Linked DNA regions of Homo sapiens: region 2 is reported to be linked to region 1. The links are microRNA targets in miRTarBase. Many come from high-throughput screens and were not tested one by one. Region 1 holds a microRNA gene; the other region holds the end of a gene's coding sequence.
The links. Region 1 holds the annotated microRNA hsa-miR-4740-5p (AGGACUGAUCCUCUCGGGCAGG, at 1,732-1,753, shown strand). A microRNA usually pairs through its seed, bases 2 to 8, with sites in the 3' UTR of a target mRNA and lowers its output. Matches are read on the target gene's strand: a 7mer-m8 pairs with bases 2 to 8, a 7mer-A1 pairs with bases 2 to 7 and ends in A, and an 8mer does both.

Region 1 (4,148 bases):
CAAACCAGCCATGTGGAAGTCCGCACACAAGACGCAAAAAAATTGTTTAACGTAATTATGCTTTTTTCTCTCTAAACTAGATCATATATAGACACAGACCAAAGCAAAGTGATCTGGGGTATAATTCTTTTTTTAAAAAAATACATGCAGCTAAATTTTAAAAACCAATACAATATTCTGGCTCTTAACAATTTCAAAAGGCTTTCTTTCAGCTACAGATGCTTCTAGCTGGATGTCTGCATGACCAAGTTGCCCATCACAAATGGGTTGAACATCTCCGAGCACAAGCGTTCTCTTCGGTCCGCAGGGGGGAGGAAATGGGGCCTCCAGGGACGGGGACACATGACCCTTCAGACCCTGAAAGAGGCAGCCCCGAGGGGCCTCCAGCGCCCTCTAGAGCACCCTGCGCTTGGGGAGGCTGGGAGGACCTGGGATCAAGAAGAAGCAGGGAGGACACAGGCCAGGCCAGAGCCCAGAGCCGTTTCTCACAGCCCTCCGGGGCCTACACGCCAAGAACCACGTGGCCAAACTTAGAATGAGCAAGACAAAGGGCTAGGCCACCCGACCAGGCGCCCACCTACCCGGGTGCTGCCTAGACCTGGAAGTAAGGGCAGAAGGGGGAGAATGCAGCTGGCCTGGACCTGGCCAGGATGTGAGCTGGGGCATGGGGTCAGGGAGAGTGCTGACCTGACCTGATGGGGAATTTGGCCTTGCCTCCCGGAGGGGACAGCCCCAGCCTGCCTGTGCACCAACATGCAAGCCTCAGTGTCAGGGGCCCCTGTCTCTGTCGTGCTGTTACTTGCCAGGCTGGAGGGCACGGTACAGTGGAGGTGGGGTGCACACAATCCCCCTACCCCCAGTGGGGGCCACCAGCCTTCAGCCAGAAGAGGGGCTGGTGGGGAGGCTGGCGAGCTGTCCCTTCTGCCAGGGCGGCCCCAGCCTCAGCGCCCCGTGCACCTGAGCCGGGTGGGCAGCAGCTCCCATGCAGGGGCAGGAAGACAAGCTTGATAACCACAGGGACAGCAGAAGAGATATTTTTAAATCACCCATCGCTCAGGCAAGTGCTTTTTCTCCTTCTCTTTCCAGTTACAAATCTAGAGGAGAAAAAAGAAAGGGAGAAAAAGAAGGAAGGGCAACAGAGAGAAAAGGGCAGCCTCGCCAAAGGCCCAGGCAGGGAGGGAAGCGGGTGTGGGCCAACCCGGGAAGTGCTGGGGAGACCCCTCCACTGGGCGGCTCCCCCATTCCAATCTCCTGGCGCTGCAAATGCTGGAAGCCCGTTAGCAATTAAGCAATTTCAAGTTTGTTTTTTTCTAGAAAATGTACGTTTTTCTTTGAGTGCCCTCCCTTTTTCCGACGTTTTCCTTTCTAGCCCCGTCTCTGCCATCCGTTTTAATCCACACACTAATTGTAATCCCATTAAAGCAGATATAATTTTATTAGTATTCACAGTTCATCAAGCTACCAATAATAACTGTTACTGCCAATTTTGTTTTTAAAAGCGACAAACATTTCTGATGTTTAGAACAAACTGTAAACAAAAGCCACCCATGTACCAGGGTGACCCGGCGGGTCCCTAGCGCAGCCCTGCGCGCTTCCCCCGAATCTACCCGCGCCGCCTGGTGACCTCTAGGGCTTCAGGCGTGGTAGCTGCCCCTACCCTGACCTCCCTCGACACTCATATCAAAGCCACCGGGAAGAGGGCTGCCCTGGAGGCCTGGGCCCGCTCTGCCAAGGACTGATCCTCTCGGGCAGGGAGTCAGAGGGGACCGCCCGAGAGGATCCGTCCCTGCGAGGCCCAGCACGGCGCCCCACGCTCTCCTCTTGGAGCAAATCCGCCTCGCTCTCCTCTTGGAGCAAATCCGCCGCACTCTCGCCTGCACCGAAATCCTGAGCGCCGCCCCGCGCCACCCCCAGCCCGCGCCCGCGCTGCCCTCCTCCCCGGGCCGCAGGCTGAGAGGCTGGGCCGCACTCTGGCCACGCTTTGTCCGGCTTTAGCGGGATACCAGAGGCACTCGTTAAGGCAAATGCATCCCTGCAAACCCATTCTCGCCCTGACACTTTAAGGCTTTATATAGAAACAGGATTTGCTCGTCTTACACCAGCAGTCCCTATTAACGCTCGCCCGGCGCACACACCACTCTAATCCGCGAGGCCGCGGCGTACCCTGGTCCCCTCCCCCCGCCACAACAGCCGTTTTGTTTCCGCAGAAAGCGCCTCGTTGTCCCAGCCCCGGAACGTCTTAGGGAGGTGAATGCAGAATGCAGAAAAGAGGTTTCCGTGGAATTTAGATCTGCAGGAGGGGGCGGGGGAGGGTGGCGAGGCGCGGAAAGGCTTTAATTTCAGCCGGCTCCGGGGCTGCCCCTCCGAGACCCCCGGGGGAGGGTGGCCAGGGAAGGGCCTCTCTAAGCCGCGGCGACGCAGCTTGGGGGGCTGGCGGGACGCGCGGCCCCGCTCAGCGCCCAGGCAGCCACCGCGGCCGGGGCCGGGAAATGAAACCAAAGCTTCTCTGCTCCCGGGAGCGGAGGGGTGGGCGCCCTGTTCCGCTCTCGAACGCTCCCGTCCCGCGCCCGCCCCGGCCGAGCACTGACCTGTGTGCGAAGCCATGGGCAACGGCGACGGGAAGTACTTTCCCGGCTGGAAGTGTGCGGGGGGCTGCGCGGCGGGCCCAGCCGGGGCGAGACGCGCGGCGGCAGCGGCGCTGCGGTGGCCCAGGCTCCCGCGCTCCGACAGCAGATGCGGCGGCGGCGCAAAGTCGCGGCCATCCATGCCGGGCCCCGGCCCCGGTCCGCCGCCGCTTCCTCGGAGCAGCGCGGCCGGGGCCCGGGGGCGGCTCGGCGCGCGGGCGGCGCAGAGGCGGCGGCGTCCGGGGTCACAGGCGGTGGTGGCGGCGGGGCCGGTCAGCACGCGGGAGGACTGGGCTTCTCGGCGGGCGGCCGCGCACCGAGCCAGCGGCCGCTGTGCGGGTCCATGGTCTGTGGAGGCAAAAGCAGAGGAGACACGGGTGACTGGGGGGCTCGGCTCGCCCGGGGGTCCCCGCCCCGCCCGCTCACCCACTCCCCCCACCCCCCACCCCCGCCGGCCCGAGCGAGCGGCGGCCAGGCCGGGTGGCGGGGCCGGGGCGCTCGGTGTCTCCCCGCCGCACGCGCGCGCAGCCCAGCACCCGGGGCCCCGCGCGCGCACGCACCGTCCCGGCCACGCTTGGCCCGGGGCAGCCGGGGGAACCCAGCCGCACTGCTCGCCGCCTCCCGTTCTCGTCCCCGCGGGTCCCTGCAGCTAGGGCGCCGCGGCGAAGAGGCTGCTGGCTCTGCTGGGTGATAAAAACCCAAATCTGCGAAGCCATCACGCACACTCGCACACACACACACACACACACACACTCACACGCACACCCTCTCCCCTCCCCCGCTGCCCAAAGGTGTCTCGGAGGAAAAGGCCTGGGGTCCACACTAGCTCTCCCCCTCTCCCCACCTCATGCCGAGGTCCAGCTTTTACTGCATTCCGCTTAACCGAATAACCATGCTAATTAAGCGAGTAATTTTATTGATTGTAACTCAAGAGTTTTTTTTTTTTTTAATAACCTTCCTTTTCTCCCCACTCCCATCCCCCTCATGCATCTTTCGGCCCATTCTTCTGAATCCACCGTGGTCCCCCCTCCCCAGCCCCAGCGGGACCAGCTCCTGTCCCCAGCATCGCGCTAGGACCCCAGGCCGGCTCCTCAGAGCCCCGGAGGCCCGCAACCGCCACCGGCATCACCTGGGCCGCCACGCCGCAGTGCCCGGCCTGCTGTCCCGGAGCCGGGAGCTTCCTGTTGAGGCTGTAACAATCACCCCGCCCCCCAATCAAATTCGCCCAGGATCTTCCTCTGCGGATTGGGGGCTTGGGGGTGTGTGTGGGGGGGGTGCTTTCAGAGTCAGAATGCTCTCTCTCAACGGCCCAAATCGGCCCTGGGATTTCTTCCTTCAGCGCCTGCCGGGGACCGCGAGCAGAGGCCGGTCTCCGCTCCGGGCAGTACCGGGCGGCCTGGGTACGCGGGGTCTGCGGCGCCCAGCTCGGCCCTCTAGCCGGGGAAGGTGGGCCCGGCCCAGCACAACCTTCTGCCAGCAGACCCTGCCCGGACCTCGGCCACCTAAAATAACCCTCACCTCCAT
Region 2 (4,012 bases), not on the chromosome of region 1:
CTCTTGACACAGTTGCAAGAATGTAGTAACTCTGATCAGCTACAAGGAAAGGAGGAAAGAGTAAATGAAGAAAGTCATCTAACTGAAAAGGAATATATAGAACATTGTAACACCCCTACAACTGATTCTGATTCATCTATAGCAGTTAAAGCACTACAAATAGATAGCTTTGGTTTAGTTACATGCTTTCAACAAGAGTCTCTTGATGTTTCTCAAATGATACTTGGAAAATCTCAGCAACCTGAGTCAAAAATGCAATCTGAATTTATAAAAGAAAAAAGTGCTACTTGTTCAAATGAGGAAAAAGATAACTTAAACGAGTCAGTAATAACTGAAGAGAAAGAAACAGATGGAGATCACCTATCTTCATTACTGAACAAAACTACGGTTCACAATATACCTGGATTCGACAGCATAAAAGAAACCAATATGCAGGATGGTAGTGTGCAGGTCATTAAAGATCATGTGACCAATTGTGCATTCAGTTTTCAGAATTCTTTGCTATATGATTTGGATTAATTCTATATAATTTTGGACTTTTAAATATTAAGGTTAAAAAATACCTGTATCTAAAATTGATTCTGTTAACTGTTGTCTTAAAACTAAAGGTATTAAAGTATAAAATTAAAATTTGCAATTTTTTTTAAAAAATTGCAATTTTGATTCTCATGGGGGAAATTGGAGATAATTTTTTTTTTTTTGCCTCTGGAGTTTAAAGTTTCCTTATGGAGATAAGTTTTGTGATTCCTGTAATAGATGTGTATGTTTTCTATTTGAGAGTTAAAACATTTGAGAGTTAAAACATTTAGTTTTAATACAACCTATGTATATATACTTCTGTGTTAAATTTTGCTTTGTCATTAATAAAATTTAAAAATATTCACTAATTGTGTTTGTCACACAAAGTAATTCTCAAGAATGCATTTAACTGGAATTATAAGTACATGTGTGGGGGGTAGAATTTCAAAACTGTTTCTCAGTCTCACTAAGTAGGACATATTTAAGCTTGAAATAGAGCTTAGAGGGGAAAGAACTTTACTAACCAATATTAATCTAAACAATTACGATACAAATTCACCAGATAAAATGTAGTACTTTTCATCAGCTCTATATTTTGTCACACAAACTATATATATTTTTGTTACATAAAGTATATATAATAGATTTAGTTATTTAGTAATGATTTTCAAAATTCAATTTTGAAGTATTTCTTAGAAGTTATTGAAATATTAAAACATCTTGTGGTTTTATAGAAATTTAAGAGTAAAACTGGAATTTTTAAAATCTGGCAATTTGCTCTGATAGGAAAATTGCCTTCATTACATTATTACACAGAAAAACAAAAAAAAGCCAGTGTTTCCTAATCACTTTCTTTTTTTTTAAGAGATGGGTCTTGCTATGTTGTCCAGACTGGATTCAAACTCTTAGGCTCAAGTGATCCTCTCATCTCAGCCTCCTGCATAATCAATTTCCTTTATAACACCTAAAATGTGAGGCAAAGAGAAGATCCTAACAGGTTTTTTTCTTACAAAAAATTTTAGGGCAGCCAAAGAAAATGAAAGGAAGGAAATACAGAAAGGGAAATATTTGTTGATTTAATCACTAACCCCAAAGCCAGGAGCTGATCTATTTGTTTCAAAAACAGCTACTACTTCACACTCTGGCCTTCTTAGCTCAGTCCTGGAAATAACCTAATTTTTTAGTTCTTTGAACTAGTGATGTCAGGTCAGAGTACCAGAAATAGGTACAAAGCCTCCTGATTCACCCTTATTTATAACCCCCAGGCAAAATCTTGCACCAGACTGGGCCGTGGGTAAGTCTAAAGGTAGCTCGTAAAGCAAGAGAACTATTTGCCTCACCTTAGATAAGCATATGTGCTCTTAAACTACTATGAATCTTAAATTGATGCAATAATTTTGAGACTGCCATTTAATAGTTACAAGTTTAAGTAACTTTTTTTTTTTTTCTTTAGATGGAGCCTTGCTCTGTTGCTCAGGCTGGCGTGCAGTGGCACGCTCTAGGCTCACTGCAACCTCTGCCTCGAGACTCAAAGGATCCTCCCACCTCAGCCTCTCAAGTAGCTGGGACTACAGATGCACCACTACACCCGGCTAATTTTTTGTATTTTTAGTAGAGATGGGTTTTCGCCATGTTGCCCAGGCTGGTCTCAAACTCTTGAGTTCAAGCAATCTGCCTGCCTCAACCTCCCAGAGTGCTGGGATTACAGACATGAGCCACCACACCCAGCCCGTAATATCTTTACACAGAAATTAGTCTTTTATGAGAAATTCTCGGTTGAATGCAATTACAAATTAAGGGAAACTTCTATAAACGTCTACATTAAATATGGAGCAAAATTTAAGCCTGTTTCCTATAATTTTCTGTATCTGTCCTTTTAAAACGTATGATTTAAGTTAAAGCTGGCACTAGAAAGTATTTCACTTTGGCATGACTGAACTTTGTATCATTTCTGGCTTTCAAAAACAATTTAGGCTGTATTTCCCTTACACAGCAACTTTTTATCATTCATTTTCAATGCCTGGGTAATTTGAAAGCCAAACAGTTTCTTGCACAGGGAATGCATTGTCATAAGCTGGGTTTTATTTCAAACTCAATTATACAATGTAGCAATAGTAAATATTAAAATGTAATGCTAACTCAAAACTTGTAGAATGCCTTCACTGAATTTTGGTATAAAGAGTAAACAAAACTTATTCTGCAAAAGGATTAGGAACCTTTTTATGCAAAAATGAGTATTTTATTTTGTCAGCACTAAAAGAAAAAAAAAAACAAAACCACTGTATTTCTACATTGAGGTGAAAACAATGTTTAAACTTTCTTATCAATCAAATACATTCCAAAAGAAAGTGTGTTCTATGAAGGTTCCAAAACACACTCAAAACACAATAGTACAGGAATCTAATACTGAAAATGACTGTTCTGACAGGGTGTTTAACAAACATAACTTTTAAATTATTAAACCAGTGAAGCAATCCCTTCCTAATAAGTGTGTCAAGAGAGTGAAACTGGGTTTGTTCCATTAATACCCTAACAATTTCATCGTAATACTTTTTACTGCTATGACAGTTTTAAATAAATTTTGCTGTACTTAAAATAGGTTTTGAAAGTGGAAAAGTGTACAAAGTTTCAGATAAAAAGATTAATAAATGCAATTTAAATAAAATTTCCCCTCTTCTCTCATATCAACAATAATCAATTTTAGCAGATAACAGATTGAGCTTTAAAACCCTACTCCCAAAATGAAACCTTCAGTTTTAAATCTTAATCAGACATAACTGGAAAAGATTACTATGTATTTGGACACCTTTTACAAGATTTTGTTTTTGTATTAAAGCAGAAACCAGTTCCTAAACTCTTTTATTCAATTGTATGTCCTGTTTGGACAAATATCAAAAATAGAAGACTGTCGCTTTTGTAACTGTGATTTTCACTGCAGTCTTCTATAACTTTTACAGAGTTCATGGTCCCTAATATCTCCCCACCCTCCATTTTTTCTAGGTGGGGAAATGGCTACCACAGTAAACTTTTCACTGATAGTTAGAGTTTCTGGAAACATGTATTGTTTGTTATTATTTAAGAGTGACTCAATTTGGGCACTCTGAGTGGATGGTCTACAGGTTTTCTTGTGATGCATACCACAGTCTCCAGCATGAAAGATCCTAGGAATTTGAGGAACCAGCACTTTCCAGAATTTTGGAAGACAAGATACAGTCAAGTATTGAAGAGTCCAGTCCCAGTTATAATCATCATAAGTACAGAAAGTGTCTGTGCACTCGATCAGCTTCTGATAGGCATTCCGGGTCAAGGCTAGACCCATATTGTGCTCTGTGGATTTCCAAGTTTTCACATCTACCTTGTCAGCCATGCCATAGAAACTGCGACTGGCACTATAGGTCCCCAGGGAGAGAACATCACATTCAGGGCACTCTTGCTGCTTCAGTTTCCACATCTTTTTGAAGACATGGTAAAAGTCTGGGGCTAAGTAGTGATC

Region 2: miRTarBase lists DNAAF2 as a target of hsa-miR-4740-5p. The part of its 3' UTR that is shown has no 7-base or 8-base seed match.

The regions. Positions count from the first base shown.
Region 1 is chr17:81,398,358-81,402,505 of GRCh38, reverse strand. It overlaps MIR4740 (microRNA 4740), which reads left to right and starts at 1,728; the gene lies at 1,728-1,790. It overlaps BAHCC1 (BAH domain and coiled-coil containing 1), which reads right to left. Exons shown (of 28, transcript NM_001377448.1): 2 at 2,589-2,972. The coding sequence starts at 2,766. RefSeq lists enhancers at 1-235, 535-714.
Region 2 is chr14:49,622,049-49,626,060 of GRCh38, reverse strand. It overlaps DNAAF2 (dynein axonemal assembly factor 2), which reads left to right. Exons shown (of 3, transcript NM_018139.3): 3 at 13-887. The coding sequence ends at 519. MGAT2 (alpha-1,6-mannosyl-glycoprotein 2-beta-N-acetylglucosaminyltransferase) reads right to left here. Exons shown (of 1, transcript NM_002408.4): 1 at 2,580-4,012. The coding sequence ends at 3,449. Among named protein-coding and RNA genes, the nearest start is that of MGAT2, 3.3 kb to the right of the region's middle.